Homo sapiens: one gene and its partner. The protein of the gene in region 2 interacts with the protein of the main gene of each other region in a pairwise test. Each region holds a gene or a part of one and is shown on either strand. Other genes may lie near its edges. The genes, in order: PYDC2 and NLRP12.

Region 1 (5,002 bases), on a different chromosome or scaffold from region 2:
ATTTTGTCTTTTATGACAGGCTTCTTTCATTTAGCATAGTGTTTTCAATGTTCATTCATGTTTAAGCATGTGATCAATACTTCATTTTTGTCGAATAATATTTCATTAGCTGCATATGCCACAATTTGTTTATTCATTTGTCCATTCACAGACATTAGGTTGTTTCCACCTTTTGGCTATTGTATACAATGACACTATAAACATTTGTGTTTATGTTTTTATTTCTCTTGATCATGTACTTATAAATATAATATTAGATCATATGAGAACTCTGTTTATCATTTGAGAAATTGCCATCCTGTTTTCCAAAGTGGCTGCACAATTTCACATTTCCATAAGCAGTATATGAGGATTCTAGTTTCTCCACATCTGTGCCAATACTTGTTATTATCTTTCTATTCTAGCCAGCCTAGTGGATATGAAGTGGTATCTCATCATAGTTTTGATTTGCATTTCCCTGAATACTAAAGTTGTCAGGCATCTTTTCTTTTAATGTTTGTGAATTATTTCACCTTTATTTATCTCAAAATACTGGTGATATAGATATTTCATATATAACAAGGTTAAGCAACATGTGCATGTAAAATGGAGGCAGAACCAAGGCTAAAGCAACATCTAGCTCAGCCATCAACTCACTATCCCTGAGGGGTTAAGGTGGGGGCATCACACAGTGTTCATCAGCTCTCCCAGACAGATGCGTTTGATTCATCTTTTCAAAGACCTGGATGGCTGCCATCCCTGCCCAGTAGCTGCAGGAGTGGCTGGTGAAGATTTCTACCAGTTGCTTCCCATTAGCCTTGTCTACCTCTGTCTGGGGGACGGTCTGTAGCTCCTTTCCCAGGGAGATTGTTCTGATCAGAGACTTGAACTTGCTCAACTCATCCTGGCTGAGCTGCTCCAGAAGAGCCTGCAGGTTGAAGTCCAGCTCTGCAGAAGATGCCATCTTGTCCTATGTGGGAGCTCTCCCAACGCCTGGCCCTATGCTCTGGTTCTCACATTTTTTCATATACTAATAAGTATATATTTTTATATCTTTTTAGAAGAAATATCAGTTCAGATTTTTGCTCATTATAAAATTGCGTTATTGTCTTTTTATTGCTGAGTTGTAAGAGTTCTTTATATAGTCTAGGGACAGGTCCTTCATTAGATACGCGATACGCAAATTTTTGCTCCCATTCTGTGAGTTGTCTTATCAGTTTAATGATGGTGTCCTTTAAGGTACAAATGTTTTTCATTTTGATGAAATCAAATTTATCTATTTTTTTCTTATTTTTTATGCTTTTGATGTCATGTCTAAGAATCTTTTGCCAAGTCTCAGGTCATAAAGATGTACCCCTATCATTTACTATAAGAATATTACAGCTTTAACTCTTACATTTGGGTATTTGATATATTTTGAGTTAATTTTTGTATGTGGCATGAAATAGAGGTCCAACTTTATTCTTCTGCATGTAGAAATCTACTTGCCTAAGCATCATTTGTTGAAAAGTCTATTCTTTCCCCATTGTACGGTCTTGAAACCCTTGTTGAAAGTCAGTTGACCACAGATGTACGGGCTTATTTTTGGACTCTCAGTTCTGTTTTATTGAGCAATGTGCCTATCCTTATGCCAGTACCACATTATCTTAATTACCATTAAGATGCTAAGTCATGAAATGAGGAAATACTAAATAAATTACTAAGTCATGAAATAAGGAAAGGTGAATTGTCTTTGTTTGCTCTTATTTTTCAATATCATCTTGGCTGTACTGGGTCTATGCGATACTACTTGAATTTTCTAACTAGTTTGCCCATTTCTACATAAAGTAAGCTGAGGTTCTGACAGGGATTGTATTGAATCTGTAGATCAGTTTGGGGAGTAGTGCCATCTTAACAATGTAAATTAAGCCTTCCAATCTATAAACACGAGATGCTTTCCACTTATTTAGCTCTTTAATTTCTCTCAATAATGTCTTGTAATTTTCAGAGCATAAGTTTTACTTCTTTGTTAAAATTTATTTCTAGGTATTTTATTCTTTTTGATATGATTCTAAAAGGAATTGTTTTAATTTCAGTTTTGGACTGTTCATTACAAGTGTGTAGAAGAAAAACTGATTTTTATGTATGATCTTGTATCCTGAAACCTGGATGAACTCATTTAATAGTTCTAACAGGTTTCGAGTGAATTTTTTAGGATTTCCTATATACAAGATTATGTTATCTGCTAATACAGACACTTTCACTTCCATTCCAATCCAGTTGCCTTTCTTATCTTGTCTAGTTGCTAGGGCTAGCACCACTAATGTAATGTTGTATGGTCATGCTAAGAGCAGATAGCATTGAGATGGTCCTGATTTTAGGACAAAAATCATTTTTCCATTAAATATAATTTTGGCTATGAGTTTTCATAGATAACTTTTATCAGATTGAGGAAGCTCCCTTCTATTTTCCAGTTGGGAGTATTTTTATCATGAAAGGAAGTTGGGTTTTGTCCAGTGCTTTTTCTGTGTTTATTGAGATAATCATGTAATTTTTGTTTTTATTCTACTGATATGATGAATTATATTAATTGATTTTCATATGTTCAAACCAACCTTGCCGTCCTGGGATAAATCCCACTTGGTCATTGTGTATAATTCTTTTTATAGGTCACTGTATTCAATTTGCTTGTATTTTTTGGAGTGCATGTTTCAGATTGAGTATAAATTTATATGAACCCTAGAGAAGGCAGTCCTGAAAAATATAAACGACAAGAGCATTTGCTCTTTGACCTGGCTTTTCCACCTCTAGTATTTGTCTTACAGGTGTGTCTGCTTGCATAGCATTATTTGTAAGAACAAAATACTCACTTAATGTCCTCAATAGATTCTTGGAAACTGCAACTTTGAATGAAATGATGTATAACAAAAACAATTTTATCATAGGCTAACTCATACAAGCAAGAGTTAAATTCCTATGGCATGCTGGTCACAAAAACATCACCGAAGTTCTAAATAAAAACCAAAACACTTCTAATATTAAACATAGAAATAAATGTGAGCCCTACATGCATTTTAAACAGATTAATAAAAATGAGTAAGATGATTTTTTATCCACTTATTCCAATTCAGGGTTGTGAGTGGCCTGAGGTTATGCGGCAGCTCAGGGTGCCAGGTGGAAACCAATCTTGAACAGGACGCCATCCTATCACAGGGTACACTCACGCAGACTGCGAGCATTTAGACACACCAATTAACCTAACATCTTTGGGATGTGGGAGGAAAGTAGAGTACAGAGAAAATCCATGCAGACATGGGTAGAACATGCTAACATGCAAAGTCCATATAGACAGTGGCCCCTGTTTGGAATTTTTTTTTCCTCATCAATGTTACACAAAATGATGTTGAAAAAAATGTTATTTGAGGATCTGTTGTATCTGTTGTATTTAGCAAGAGGCTAAATACAGGATGAGGAGTGGCTTACATAGTGATACATAAAAATGTCCATGATATATTCAGTTTAAAAAAAGGCACATGCTGGCTGGGTGCGGTGGCTTACACCTATAATCCCAGCACTTTGGGAGGCCGAGGCAGGCAGATCACCTGAGGTTGGGAGTTCGAGACCAGCCTGACCAACGTGGAGAAACCCCATCTCTACTAAAAATACAAAATTAGCTGGGCGTGGTGGTGCATGCCTGTAATCCCAGCTAATCGGGAGGCTGAGGCAGGAGTATCGCTTGAACCTGGGAGATGGAGGTTGCGGTGAGCCAGGATCACACCATTGCACTCCAGCCTGGGCAACAAGAGCAAAACTCCATCTCAAGAAAAAAACAAAAGAAAACAAGGCACATGTAACTCCTGTGAGAGAAATGGGAGGTGGGATATAAATTATATTTGTTTGAATTTTCATAAGGAAACTCTGGAAAGATATTTTAAAAATCAGTAAAAGTAGAAATTAGTACAGAACATGGTAGACACAGATGGGAATGGAAGGGAGGTGTTCACAGTGCTCGTTTGATAGTTATACATTTTGAACCACACAAATGTATTACTTGCATTAAATAATTCATATTTCAAAAAGAATCAAAACATAGAATTTTTACTAAGATAAAGTCATTGGGCAGGAAGCAGCTCTTGGTGTCATCAAGTTCAAACCTTTTTTGGTGGGCGACCAAGTCTCACTCTGTTGCCCAGGCTAGAGCGCAGTGGCACGATCTCAGCTCACTGCAAACTTCGCCTCCCAGATTCAAGCGATTCTCCTGCCTCGGCCTCCCAAGTAGCTGGGATTACAGGCACCTGCCACCACACCTGGATAATTTTTTGTATTTTTAGTAGAGATGGGGTTTAACCATGTTGATCAGGCTGGTCTCAAACTCCTGACCTCAGGTGGTCCACCCATCTCAGCCTCCCAAAGTCCTGGGATTACAGGCATGAGCCACCACGCCTGGCCAAGTTCAAATCTTTGAAGCGAATCTTTGAATTGAGAAACAAAGGTCAAGCTAGGAAAGAGGATTTACCTCAGGATACATGGCAAGTTCTTGGCAGAATTGGGATAAAGATTCACATGTTCCAATTCAAAATCAGGTCTCTTCCCACTTCTGCATATCTGCTTTTCACGTTAGGAAATCCTGTATTTGGCTTTTACTGTGTATTATGGGAAGGGAGCATCATGCTTAAAACTAATATACTCAGAGTCCTTTCTTCCCAGTCGTACCCTGGTTCGCCTGGAATATGTGTCCTACTTGGTAGCAGCCTCCACATTATTCTAATGAAGACACAGCAGTTCTACATGCCAGAAACCCTTTATTAAAAATTCACAAAAGTAGACCACAAATGTTCACATTCTGCAATGCTTTCTTCTTGCAACCACTTTAATGTTTTTCTCTCTTCTATGAGTATTTCTTTAGAAATACTCTCTGTGCATCTGTCCACCGTGATGGTACCACGAGCACTATAATCTGATTTATATTGTCAGTCACTTTGCAAAAATAGCCTATTGCTCCAGAGATAATGGGGATGGTGTCGAAGTTACTGATTACTAAATC
Region 2 (8,088 bases):
GGTTTCACCATGTTGGCCAGGCTGGTCTCGAACTCCTGACCTCAGGTGATCCATCCACCTCAATCTCCCAAAGTGCTGGGATTACAGGCGTGAGCCACCGCACCCAGCTCATTGTGATTATTTTATGAGATAGAAGATATAATAAAAGAAATCATGTTGGCTGGGCACGGTGGCTCACACCTGTAATCACAGCACTTTGGGAGGCCGAGACGGCTGGATCATGAGGTCAGGAGATCGAGACCATCCTGGCTAACATAGGGAAACCCCGTCTCTATTAAAAATACAAAAAATTAGCCAGGCATGGTGGCGGGCACCTGCAGTCCCAGCTACTCGGGAGGCTGAGGCAGGAGAATGGCGTGAACCCAGGAGGTAGAGCTTGCAGTGAGCTGAGATTGCGCCACTGCACTCCAGCCTGGGCGACAGAGCAAGACTCTGTTTCAACAACAACAACAAAAAGAAATCCAAGAGTGCTAAGGAGGCACAGAAGTGGGGTTTCTGAGCCAGCCAGAGTGGTGGGAGCGAGGAATCAGAAGGAGTGGGGGAAGAGGAGTAAATACTTTACTTTAGAGAAGGTAGTGGCTTCAAGGTTTCAGTAAGTAATACTTTTCCAGGCAAAGAAGATGGAGAATATTCCAGGCAGAACACAGCATGAACAAAGACCAAAGGGATGAAATTAGAATTCTGTACACAGTCATAAAAAAGAACAAAATCATGTTCTTTGCAGTAACATGGACGCAGCTGGAGGCCATTATCCAAAGCAAACTAATGCAGGAATAGAAAACCAAAGACTGCATGTTCTCACTTATAAGTGGAAGCTAAACATTGGGTTCTCATGGACAGAAAGATGGGAAGAAGAGACACTGGGGACTCGTGGCGGGGAGAAATCTCACCATTGGGTACTATTACTATGTTCAAGTACCTGCATGATAGGATCAATCTTACTCTGAATCTCAGCATCACTCAATATACCCATGTAACAAACCTGCACATGTACCCCTTGAATCTAAAAGTTGAAATTTTTATATAGATATAGATGTGTGTGTACGTAAATTAGAATTCCAGATCTCCCAGGCTCAGGGATTAGTATGAAAGAAAAGGGAATTGGTGGCCAGGCAGTGGTCATTCATGCCTGTAATCCCAGCACTTTGGGAGGCTAAGGTGGAAGCTCGCTTGAGCCCAGGAGTTCAAGACCAGCCCGGGCAACATAAGGACACCTCATCTTGGCCGGGCACAGTGGCTTATGCCCGTAATCCCAGCACTTTGGGAGGCTGAGGTGGGTGGATCACGAGGTCAGAAGTTCAAGACCAGCCTGGCCAAGATAGTGAAACCCCGTCTCTACAAAAAATACAAATACAAAAAATTAGCCAGGCATGGTGGCAGGTACCTGTAATCTCAGCTACTCGGGATGCTGAGGCAGAAAATTGCTTGAACCTGGGAGACGGAGGTTGCAGTGAGCGGAGATTGCGCCACTGCACTCCAGCCTGGGCAACAGAGCGAGACTCAGTCTTAAAAAAAAAAAAAAAAAAGGATACCTCATCTCTTTCTTAATTTATTTTTGAGATGGGGTTTCACTCTGTTACCCAGCCTGGAGTACAGTGGTGCAATCTCAACTCACTGCAATCTCCACCTCTCAGGTTCAAGCGATTCTCCTGCCTCAGCCTCCCATGTAGCTGGGACTATAAGCGTGTGCCACCACGCCTGGCTAATTTTTGTATTTTTAGTAGAGACAGGGTTTTGCTATGTTGGCCAGACTGATCTCGAATTCCTGACCTCAGGTGACCCACCCGCCTTGGCCTCCCAAAGTGCTGGGATTATAGGTGTGAGCCACTGCACCTGGCTACCTCATCTCTTAAAATATATATACACACACACATATACACACACATATATATACACATATATACACATATATATACGTGTGTGTATATATATATAAATTCCAGATCTCCCAGGCTCAGGGATTTTATATATATGTATTTTAAATATTTATTTTAATAATATATGTATTAAATATTTAATATATAATATTTATTATTTATATATATTTATATAATATACCATATTTATATAATATAGTATATTTATATAATAAATATATACTATATTTATATATAATATATACCATATTTAATATATATTTAATAATATAATTATATACATATTTTAAATATATATTTAAAATATATGTTTTAAATATATATATTTAAAATATATGTTTTAAATATATATTTTAAATATATATTTAAAATATATATTTTAAAATATATTTATTTAAAATATATATTTAAAACATATATTTTAAATATATATATTTTAAAAAAATATATTTTAAATATTTGAGGCAAGGTCTCGTTCTGTCACCTAGGCTGGGGTGCAGTGGCAGGATCATAGCTCACCGCAGCCTCGACCTTCTGGTCTCAAGTGATCCTCCCACCTCAGCCTCCTGAGAAGCTGGGATCACAGACGTATACCACCACACCTGGCTAATTTTTTTTATTTTTGGTAGAGACAGAGCCTCACTATGTTGTCCAGACTGGTCTTGAACTCCTCACCTCAAGTGATCTGCCCTCTTCAGCCTCCCAAAGTGCTGAGATTACAGGTATGAGTCACTGGACCCGGCTGGCATTCTAGCCTTGCCTGTCCCGCCACCTCCTTACCCCTCACCAGGTCCTCTCTCTGTCCTCTCTCCCACAGGTCCTTCCTGTTTATCCGCTCAAAGGTGCTGAGAGCCAACCTCCAGGCCTCCTCTGGCCCGAAGTGGGTGATGAGCAGCTGGGCCATTTCCAGGGGACCGGCCTTCTCCATGCTTCCCCAGGGGATCTTGCCTTCTCCCAGCTCTGTCGCGGTCCCCAGGTATAACTTGAACTTCTTCAGTTCCACAGCCTCGAGTTCTTCCAAGTAGGTGGACAGGCGACAGAGGCCGTCCCTGCCTGCGGTTCGTAGCATGGGGGTGCCGTGAGCCCCAAAGGAGAGGACCTGGAGGCTGAGATGCTCCTATGCACGGGACACAGGGCGACCCCAGCACACCTTCCATTGCATCATTCACAGGCAGCGGGCGGAGAGGCTGAGCCAGTGGTTGGAGGAGAGAGCAAGGGAGGAAAGACCTTTTGCTGAAATAATGCTTTCTCACTCTTCAGTTCCCTCCTGCCCTGCCCCACTCACCAATGGCTGTTCTGGGTGGAGAAGAGGAAGTTCGGGGGGAGATTAAGAAATCCGAGGAGCCACTTGGCTGATGAAAAAGATTTTCACTTCTGCTGTCTCTTCCTGGATCTCTTGACAAAACAGTCACTCTCTTTCCGCTTTCCTCTTGTTTTCCTCATTTCACTAGTGTGTGTGGTAGAGTGTATTATCAAAACTGCGACTGCGCCTCTTCCAGGGAGAATTTTTTTTTTTTTGAGACAGAGTCTTACTCTGTGGCCCTGGCTCTGCGATCTTGGCTCACCGCAACCTCTGCCTCCCAGGTTCAAGCGATTCTCCCACCTCAGCTTCCCTTGAGTAGCTGGGATTACAGGCGCCGGACACCACACCCAGCTAATTTTTGTGGTTTTAGAAGAGACAGGGTTTCACCATGTTGGTCAGGCTGGTCTCGAACTCCTGACCTCAGGTGATCCACCCGCCTCAGCCTTCCAAAGTGCTAGGATTACAGGTGTGAGCCACCGTCCCTGGCTTTTTTTTTTTTTTTTTTCTTTGAGTCAGAGTCTCACTCTGCCACCCAGGCTAGAGTTCACTGGCGTGATCTCAGCTCACTGCAACCTCCGCCTCCCAGGTTCCAGCGATTCTCCCACCTCAGCCTCTCAAGTAGCTGGGACCACAGACATGCGCCACCATGCCCAGCTAAGTTTTTGTAGTTTTGGTAGAGACAAGGTCTTCTTATGTTGCCCAGGCTGGCCTTGAACTCCTGAGCTCAAACGATCCGCCCACCTCAGCCTTCCAAAGTGCTGGGATTACAGGCATGAGCCACTGAGCCCAGCCTCAGGGAGAATTATTAAGGACCTCACGTAGGTCTGCTATTTTTTTTCTGTTCTCTCAGTCACAAGAGTGGCATGAGAGGGACTTTGCGGTAGGCAGGATGATGGTCCCCAAAGATATTCATGTCCTAATGGCCAGAACCTGTGACATTTCACCCTACATAGCAAAAGAGACTTAGCATATGTGACCAAATGAAGGCACTTCAGATGGGGACATTATCCTGGTTATCTGGGCAGGACCCATGGAATCACAAGAGTCTTTTTTTTGAGACAGAGTCTTGCTCTGTTGCCCAGGCTGGAGTGCAGTGGCACGAACTCGGATCACTGCAAGCTCCGCCTCCCAGGTTCACACCATTCTCCTGCCTCAGCCTTCCGTATAGCTGGGACTACAGGTGCCCGCCAACACGCCTGGCTAATTCTCTTTTTTTTGTATTTTTAGTAGAGATGGGGTTTCACCATGTTAGCCAGGATGGTCTTGATCTCCTGACTTCGTGATCCACCTGCCTCAGCCTCCCAAAGTGCTGGGATTACAGGCGTGAGCCACCGCACCCAGCCACAAGAGTCTTTATAAGAAGAAGACAGGAGGGTTAGTGTAAGAGGAAGATGTGACTGGGTGCAATGGCTCATGCCTGTAATCCTAGCACTTGGGGAGGCCAAGGCAGGTAGATCACCTGAGGCCAGGAGTTTCACACCAGACTGGTCAACACAGTGAGGCCCCATCTCTACAAAATATGTGTTAGCAGAATTTATGAATTCTGATGGAAGAGCAAGTTTATAATTCCCTCTGTCTCCTGCATCATGCCAACTTTGTTTCATGCTCCTAATCAATTAAGACCCCTCAGACACACACACACACACACACACACACACACACACACACACACACACACAAAAGCCTTCATAGCCAGGCGCAGTGGCTCACACCTGTAATCCCAGCACTTTGGGAGACTGAGGCGGGCAGATCACCTGAGGTCAGGAGTTTGAGACCAGCCTGGCCAACATGGTGAAACCCCGTCTCTACTAAAAATACAAAAATTAGCCGGGCTTGGTGGCACGCACCTGTAATCCCAGCTACTTGGGAGGCTGAGGCAGGAGAATCACTTGAACCCGGGAAGCAGAGGTTGCAGTGAGCCGAGACTGCGCCACTGCACTCCAGCCTGGGCAACAGAGCGAGACTCTGTCTCAAAAAAAGAAAAAAAAAATTAGCTGGGGTTTGGTGGCGGGTGCCTGTAGTCCCAGCTACTCAGGAGGCTGGGGCAGGAAAATCACTTGAACTCAGGAGGCGGAGGTTGCAATGAGCCAAGATCCCGCCATTGCACTCCAGCCTGGGTGACAGAGTAAGACTCCGTCTCAAAACAAAACAAAAAAAACCTTCACAGCTTTTTATGAGACATTCTCCCACATCCAGTCCCTTCCAGGACTAATATTCTGTTGCATGGCATGCAGCAGTTTTGAGCAGGGGAGGGATGGAGTCAGGTCTGGGTTAAGGAAGATTCCTCAAGGCCCTTGTGGAAGGCAGACCAAACAGAGGAGGCCTGGATTGGGAGAGCGAGAAGCTGAAGCCTTCATGTTTCAGGAGATGGAGATAATGCCTGAGTAAGGGCAGGCGGTGGGTGCATCCTGGGAGTGTGGGGATGGCAGTGATCATTAGAGGGGAGGAGAAAGGTTTGGCAAACCTGAACTACCTACAGACCCCATCTGAGCTTCCTCAAGTGGCTCACGACGCAGGCTCCTTCCACGCCACTGCTGCAGGTGGTGGTAAAACTAATTTCTAGGAATTCGGAAGCGAGGCTTGGGGGAAGCTGAATCCACATCTGTCTACTTCATGCTTCCACTTTCAAGATAGAACTTTCTCATGGGGAAAGAAGAGAATTGGCAACTTCTATAGCTGCTTCTGGGCTTAGTGCCATTTCTGGAAACACAAGAATGAATCTAAAGACAAGGAATGCCATTTTCCTTTTTTTTTCTTTTTTTTTTTTTGTTTTTAGTAGATGGGGTTTCACCATGTTGCCCAGGATGGCCTTCAACTCCTGAGCTCAAGCGATCCTCCCACCTCGGCCTCCCAAAGTGCTGGGATTACAGGCATGAGACACCGCACCCAGCCCAATTTTCCTTTTTTAAAAAATTTTTTTGCTGGGTGCAGTGGCTCACGCCTGTAATCCCAGCATTTTGGGAGGCTGAGGCGGGTGGATCATTTGAGGTCAGGAGTTCAAGACCAGCCTGGCCAACATGGTGAAACCCCATCTCTACTAAAAATACAAAAATAACCTGGGTATGGTGGTGGGCACCTGTAATCCCAGCTACTTGGGAGGCTGAGGCAGAAGAATCACTTGAACCCAGGAGTGGAGGTTGCAGTGAGCCGAGATCACATCACTGCATTCCAGGCTGGGTAACAGAGACACCATCTCAAATAAATAAATAAATAAATAAATAAATAATAGAAGTTGTCACCACCACCTGCTTGCCACTCCCTTGAATTCTTTCCTGTGTGAAGCCAAGAACTATCCCGGGGTAAGCCCTGTTTTGGGGCCTCACTTGCCTAGCATCACAAGGATAAACCCATTCAAAGCAGGTGCTAATTTGCCCTGTTGGTTTTCAACTAGAAGAGAAATTATTATCATCAGGGACATTTATAAAAATTATATATAGAAGGCTGGGTGTGGTGGCTCACGCCTGTAGTCCCAGCACTTTCGGAGGCCAAGGTGGGCAGATCACTTGAGGTCAGGAGTTTGAGACCAGCCCGGCCAACATGGCGAAACCCCGTCTCTACTAAAAATACAAAAATTAGCCGGATGTGCTATCGCGCACCTGTAATTCCAGCTACTCGGGGGGCTGAGGCACGAGAATCACTTGAACCTTGGAGGTGGAGGTTGCAGTGAGCCGAGATCACGCCACTGCACTCCAGCCTGGGTGACTGAGTGAGACTCTGTCTCAACAACAACAACAAATTAAAAATAAAAAAATAAATAAAAATACAAAAATTATCCAGGCATGGTGGCGTGTGCCTGTAATCCCAGCTACTCGGGAGGCTGTGGCAGGACAATCTCCTGAACCTGGGAGGCGGAGGTTGCAGTAAGCCGAGATCACACCACTGCACTCCAGCCTGGGCCACAGAGTGAGACTCCGTCTCAAAAAAAAAAATTATATATAGATGAAATATTTTATATACATTACAATAAGAATTATAAATATATAAATATGTATATGAAATTGGTCCCTCTCTAGACTTCCTGAATCAGGATCTTGGTGGGGCAGGGGCCATCAAACATATGTTTCTTTTTCCTTTTTTTCTTATATTAATTTTTTGAATAGAGATGAGGTCTCACTATGTTGCCCAAGCTGGTCTGGAACACCTGAGCTCAAGTGATCCTCCCACCTCAGCCTCCCAAAGTGCTGGGATTACAAGTGTGAACCACCACGCCTGGCTAAATACATGTTTTTATAATATAAAGCTCCCCTAGTGATTCTGCTGAGAAACATTTCTCTGTGTTAGTACTAGAAAGGCACAGAGAAATGCTTGTTTTTCTATCAGCAGAATTTCCCTTTTGCCATTCCGGAAGAGACCTGTTTCCTTTGAGGGAATACTTTGAGAAGTCACTTGAGTATGAAATCTGTTAACTGGAGAAATTTTGCAGTATGGTGTTTGCTTGTTTGCAGGTAAAACTAAATCATTCAGGATAAAAAGGCATTTTAGAAGCCACGTGGGGAAAGGCAGAAGGAAAGGAAATAGGAGGTGTCAGGTGCCTGGGAAGAACATTTGGAGGGTTTATGGAGATGAGTAATAGGAATTTAAATTGCTTTACTATATGGTGTACGATGAAAACTGTCTTCTACCCCAACCAAACCCATCATCAGTAAAACCTATGCTGCTCGCTAGCACGTTGTGAACATGGATTTGCTGCGTTTTTTTGTTTTGTTTTTTTGCTTTTTCTGAGACAGTTTCGCTCTTTCTGCCCAGGCTGGAGTGCAATGGCGCCATCTTGGCTCACTGCAATCTCCTCTTCTCGGGTTCAAGCGATTCTCGTGCCTCAGCCTCCAAGTAGCTGGGACCACAGGCGCGTGCCACTACACCCGGCTAATTTTTGTATTTTTAGTAGAGACAGGGTTTCACTGTGTTGGT

Evidence for each region.
Region 1: the proteins of NLRP12 (region 2) and PYDC2 interact in a two-hybrid assay, tested with the Homo sapiens proteins (one study listed by IntAct).

Annotation. Positions count from the first base shown.
Region 1 is NC_000003.12:191,457,104-191,462,105, reverse strand, and holds PYDC2 (pyrin domain-containing protein 2), read right to left. Parts: upstream 944-5,002; coding exon 650-943; downstream 1-649. UniProt on the Homo sapiens protein: May play a role in innate immunity by disrupting the interaction between PYCARD and NLRP3, thereby regulating the NLRP3 inflammasome. May also inhibit NF-kappa-B signaling distally by affecting the nuclear accumulation of RELA.
Region 2 is NC_000019.10:53,821,229-53,829,316, forward strand, and holds the start of NLRP12 (NACHT, LRR and PYD domains-containing protein 12), read right to left. Parts: upstream 3,087-8,088; 5' UTR 2,947-3,086; coding exon 2,658-2,946; intron 2,650-2,657; exon of another isoform or gene 2,553-2,649; intron 1-2,552. UniProt on the Homo sapiens protein: Plays an essential role as an potent mitigator of inflammation. Primarily expressed in dendritic cells and macrophages, inhibits both canonical and non-canonical NF-kappa-B and ERK activation pathways.